Homo sapiens: one gene and its partner. The protein of the gene in region 2 purifies or fractionates together with the protein of the main gene of each other region. This does not show direct contact. Each region holds a gene or a part of one and is shown on either strand. Other genes may lie near its edges.

Region 1 (3,500 bases), on a different chromosome or scaffold from region 2:
CCCCACAGTTCATTTCTGTAGAAGAGAGCCTTCTGGTCTGTTTTTCCAGATGGCGAGCTTGGGGTGAGTTAGAAGTGCCTGATTGGACTTCACAACTCAGCGTTTTTATTGGCTATTTTTGTTCTAGGTACAATGGAGGTTGATGGATTGTTACTTTTGGTTACCAAAACCAGGAGGAGGGGAGGGTGCTGCTTAGGAGAAACACCCAAAAAGAACAGACCAGCCTTTCTCAGGGACTCAGGGGTGGTGGCACTGCTTCCAACTTACTGCTTCATTTAGAACACCAGATAATAAGCACCCAGGACTCGGCCTTTAGAAGTCAATGGAATAAATAAGCTGGAAAAGGTTGAAGAGAAAAAAGCCAAGGAACATGTAAGTAGAAGATTATATGGAGCCATTTAAGAGCACAAAAAGCAAGAGTAACAAGGCAGCAGATGGAATTTGGCCCCGCCTGGCCCTGCCAAGCTCACTCTGGGAAGCACTGTGTCGAAAGTGCTCTCTTTCTGTCCCCTGAAGCATTCAAGTTCCCTAGCCAAATTCTCAGGCTGTTTCTATGGAGCTTACAAAAAAAGAGCATAGCAGGGTTGATGTGCCCTTTCCTTGTCATTCTGCATCCTCTTCTCAGCTTCATGCAATAAATCTCTGGCTTAAATGAAATTGTTCAAAGGAAAATGGAAAATGGAAAAAAAAATGGTGGAGGGGCAGGAGATACTGACTAGTTCTGGTTTTTCACAAAACAAGAAGAATTTGTCTAAGAGTAAACGGTGTTTATTTTTTGTTGATTTTTTTCAATCAAATGGAATTGCTTAATTAAAAAAAACTTATCTCTTTTCTCCTTAAATACTACAGACAACCTCATTTTATCGCAGCAGACACCTAGGAACAAAACACTGGACCCACCAGAGAAAACTGGGCAATAAAAGCATCAGAAGTTCAAGTCAACTATGGAAGAATTACTGTTAGCTGGCAGCTTTCAATTCTAAACAGAAGTGTCCCAAACCTATTGGGTTTGACAAAAGTTTCTTAGAACTGGGGAGCTGGGAATGTTGGACTCCTTTTAATTCTATTCCAATCATTTCCTGTATAGGGAAATTAAAGTCAATGCATCAAATGAAGACCCAAAGAAACATTTAAAAACTTGTTTGACTAGTATTCAGTATGTGAGATTATTAAGTAATAACTTGTCCACCTAGTTAACCTTGTCCTGGAATATATATAGGTTATTTGTAGCCGCCACTGCTATAATATTTTCTGAAGGATGCCAAGCTGTATGCAAGATCTTTTTGCTAAAGTCCAGACTGTCGACACTGATCTCGTCTTTTCTCCGCTTGCCCCCCACACACACTTTTCGGGGTTTGAGGATAGCCCGGGGCTTGCTGTTTTCCCTCGAAGCCTCAAGGGTCACATCACGCTTGGTGTTTCTGTCGAACATCCTGAAGAAGTTGTTGTAGGAGCCTGTCATGATGACACTGCAAGGCAGAGAGCAAAGGCAATGACATATCTTCACTGTCTTTTCTTTTTGGAGCAAATGATACCATGTTATGGCCAGCTTATGACACCATAGGTTTTATTAAAAACAAAAACCAAAAAATGAGAACAGGCTCTGCAGTGTGATTATTGGCTTTTTGTTTTTTTTTTGTGTTTTTTTTTTTTTTTTTTGAATCACTGAAAGCAATAGGATTTTTGGCTGGGTTTGGAAATGAGGGATGGTGAGAACTCTCCTTGTAATTTGCTTTTGCTCAATAGATTCTTTTTGCTTCTTTGGCTCAGAAAAGGTGTCCACTGGTTTTAATGATCCCAGTCCTACCTACCTCCCATCAGGAATGTGAGACTAGAATGAGGTTTGTCGAAGTAGACACACTTTTGAAAACAATAAGCAGTTGTACGTGTTTAAGGTTTGGCCACTGTCAACAGGGTTCCTGGGCCGTCTGGCCTCTAAGGCTTCATGGCATCAGTGCAGTGAGGGGAGAGATGCTAGTGGCATCGTGCACGAACCCGGGGCGCGACCTCTCCCCTGCCGAGAACTAGCTCTGAATTCGGCCTTTTTAGAAAACTTATCTACGAAATGGATGTCATCATGGTCTTATCTAGGAAACAAGTAAGGAAATTCAAATTTTAAAAGAATCTGGGATGGAGAAATAAAAAGATTTTATATGGTTTTTTTCCCACACTTAATGGACAGATGGTTTCCACATTTTTATAAGTTATCCCCTCTTAGGCATAGCTGCAATCGATCAGGAGAGTGGCAAACACCCAATGTCTTCCAGAGGCAAGGTACTGAATGTTTAATGGTGACATTTCAGACACGGTGACAAGCTGAGGTGGGGAGGGAGAGATTCCTTGGGCCAGGGCAAGTACCCCAAGTGCCATCACACGGTGGTTCCCCTGGAGTGGGGGGCTCCTACTCATTTCTGGGTGGAGCTCTGACTGGCTCCTTAAGATGGGAGAGCAGGAACTCTCGTGTATTTCTCAAATGATTTGGGATGTGTAGAGAGGTGAAGGAAAAAGCTGACAAGATTGGGCCACAGCAAGGGGGATGTGTTTTTGGGCACGTTGTCACCTGTACCAGGTAAATTAAGCAAAGGTTAGATTTTGTTACTCTGGCTCATCAAACTGATACTGTGAACTGTGTCTGTGTACTCGAGTGGACTGTTATCACCTTGTCAGGCAGGGCGCTGAGGGCTTTGCCTCCATGATCTCGTTTCAACTTCTATTATCCCCTAAAAGGGTTTTACAGAGAAGTAATTTGCTCAGTGTCACATTGCTAATTGGTGGTAAAGTCCACCCTCAAACCCACATATGGTTGACTCTGGGGCATAAGTATTCAGCCGGTTGGCCTCACTGCTTCCCATACTTTGACGTTTGCTTGCCCACCATGACCCGACTTATTTTTAAACAAGTAAGAGATTATTTTCCAAAAAAAAAAAAAAAAAGACTACCAACCTTATCTGAAAGAGAAATTAAACTTCCCAGTTGTGATGTTATAGAAAGAGTGTTGATCTTAGGATTCAAACTCTAAACTTGTTACTTTTGTCTCTACTACTTACTACTTTATGAGGTTGGGCAGATTACTTTATCTTGCTAAGCCTCAGTTTCCTTAACTGTAAAATGAGAACGATGGAAGCAATCTTGTTAGACTGTGGTTGGGATTAAATAAAATGATGTGTACGAATGTGTTTGGTATATAGTAGGTGCCTAATAAGTGTAATTTTTGAATCAAGGCTAAGATAGAGGAAAAACTTGAGCAATAATAACAGATATGTAAATAATAATATATGAATAAATAAATACCTATAAATAAATAATAAAATGAGAGGGCTGGCTTCTTTTTCCCATGGTGGATTTTGTTCTTATGTCACAGTTGCTTTGCTCTCTGTCCTATACCAACTGGTCAGTGTGACTTGGGTCCTTTGCCACGTGGAGACTCCTTCCAAGCCTGCTAAGGAGGGGATTCATTTTGGATCAGTGGCAAAGAAAGCCAAGAAACAGGTGGAGTGTGA
Region 2 (2,196 bases):
ACTCCCTCGCCAATGCCCAGCAAATATTTGAGGAGCTCTATCCCAGCCCCAGCCCATCACACACAGTCATGATCCTGGCTGGGGACCCACACGGACAGGGGGACCTTGGGGGGGTCACACTCTGGAACTAAGGTTCTGGGGGTGCTCTCGTTCCCATGGGGGCCCATCAGCAGGAGTGCACAGGCCTTAGCAGGAGCCCGTGGGGTGCGCTGTGGTGGGAAGGCTGGGAAGGGAAGGGGCCTTGGGAGCCACAGTGGATTGTAGGGTCCCCGCCTCTGGCTCCCCTCGCTCCCCCCTTCCTGCCGTGTTCTCAGTGTGAGCCGGCTCAGCCTTGCCTGGGTGTCCTTGTGCCCTGCGAGCTTCCAAGGGGCGCTGGGGAGGCTTCACAGAGGAGGTGGCTGCGCTTGGCAGCACAGATGATGTGGAGCATGGAGGCAGAGGCTGAGCAAAGTGCCTGGGGGACGGGGTCCCTCGGGGGGCAGGAAGGGCGGGCAGTGGGAGAGGTGCCAGGCCTGGGTCTCGAAGGAGAGCCTGGGAGAGTTCAGGCCATGCCCCTGCCCCGGCCAGGCCAGTGCAGCCCCTGCTCCCGCTGTGCCTGCCAGGGTTCCTGACTCAGCTTTGAGGACCAGGGTGGGGCGGGGTCCTGCCCCAGGCCTAGGCCAGAGCAGCTGGCAGTGGCTGGCACAGAGACATTCATGGACAAGTGTCTGGGAGGCCTGGGGGCGACCGGCAGCCGGTGAGGGGCCTGCGCATGTGGAAAGAGGGGCCTTCCTGCTGCATCTTGTGGGGCCTCCAGCAGGACCCCCTCCTGGGAAGGCTGGACAGCACAGTCGGAGCCGGCAGGACCAGCCAGCCGAGGGCAGGGAGCCGTGGGGCGCCGGGGAGAGGTTCACAGGTGGCCCAAGCGGCAGGGAACAAGATCCCAGTGTGGCCTCAGGTCTGGATGTTTGGAGATGTGGCACCAGGAGTGAGACCAGGAGGCCAGGCCCCTCTGGAGGTGGTGCAGGCTCTGCTGGGTCCTCTGTGTTGCCATCCCTGCCAGGGAAATGCTGGGCAAGAAGGTGCTCCCCGGGCAGGCCCTGGCATGTAGGTGGTGAGGCAGCGTGCTGCTCAGGGCGGGGCCAGGCAGCTGAGTCACAGGCCTGGGGCTGGCTGCCCTGCACAGGAGGGCGAGGCTGGCTCCCGTAGGCAGGAAGGGCCTGGCTGTGGCCCCCTCCTTGTGATGTGGACATCCTTGGTCCATACAGAGCTGTCCTGTCTCCAGAAACAAGTGTTTCTCCATCCTGAGCACACTAGCTTCCTGGGGCCCTCAGGGGCCTGTCCTCCCATCTGTCCATGTGGGGCTGGCGGGGTAGAGCCGGGCTTCTGGACATGTGTGGTGTTGCAGGCCCCTTCAGAGCCCTATGAACACTCCAGGCAAATGCCCAAATGCCCACGGTATTGACCGGCGAGAGGGGGCAAACCCCTGCCTCTCCCCACACGATATCTCCCAGCCCTGCAGCCTGGCATCTGGAGCCATGCGGACCTGGTGACAAGAAGGAGATGGGCAGAACTGTCCCCTTGTCCCCTGGGGGCAGGGCTAGCTCCTAGCCCTGGCAGAACCTAGTAGGACACTTGTTGAATGAGCAGAGGCCTGACTGGGAGAAGTTTCTAGTCTCAGCTGCTCCACATGGACCCCTGGGCCTCCAGATGGCATCTCCACCGGGCCTGGCTGAGTAAGACACACAGGCCCCACACAGCTCCCACATGCTGGCTGGGCTGCTGCGTCGAGGCCAGGATGAGGGCCTCTGGGGCCACTGCTGGGACCTGTTCAAGAGAACGGGCTGGGCACGCTCAAGAGGGGAGTCACACCTTCCGCCCGCAGCCCGGACTTGTTCACAGATGCCTCATGGAGGCTGCTTCCGGAAGCTTGGACTGAGGGTGAGGAGGGGCACGCTGGGATTGGGGACCTTGGTGGCCACGGAGCCGCTGGGGCAGCAAGGACCCTGCGGCCATTTCAGGGACCTCAGAACTGTAGATCGAGGAGGGTCTTCACCTTCCCAGGCCTTCGATTCACCTGTGGAGGGCAGCAGTTGGTAGCAGGGACCCCCTGTCCCTGGTTCTCATGTGCCGGGGGCTGGCTCTTCCTGCCTCCTGTCTGCTGTGGGCCCAGGCCTGGGGCTCCTGCCACCCCATAGGCGCCTCAAGGCCTCCACC

Evidence for each region. Proteins that work in one complex are often made in the same cells at the same time.
Region 1: the proteins of RGS12 (region 2) and PPP2R2B purify together in Homo sapiens (co-immunoprecipitation; one large-scale study listed by IntAct). This does not show direct contact.

The regions. Positions count from the first base shown.
Region 1 is NC_000005.10:146,588,758-146,592,257, forward strand, and holds part of PPP2R2B (serine/threonine-protein phosphatase 2A 55 kDa regulatory subunit B beta isoform), read right to left. Parts: intron 1,470-3,500; coding exon 1,190-1,469; 3' UTR 1-1,189. UniProt on the Homo sapiens protein: The B regulatory subunit might modulate substrate selectivity and catalytic activity, and might also direct the localization of the catalytic enzyme to a particular subcellular compartment.
Region 2 is NC_000004.12:3,436,021-3,438,216, forward strand, and holds part of RGS12 (regulator of G-protein signaling 12), read left to right. Parts: intron 1-2,196. UniProt on the Homo sapiens protein: Regulates G protein-coupled receptor signaling cascades. Inhibits signal transduction by increasing the GTPase activity of G protein alpha subunits, thereby driving them into their inactive GDP-bound form.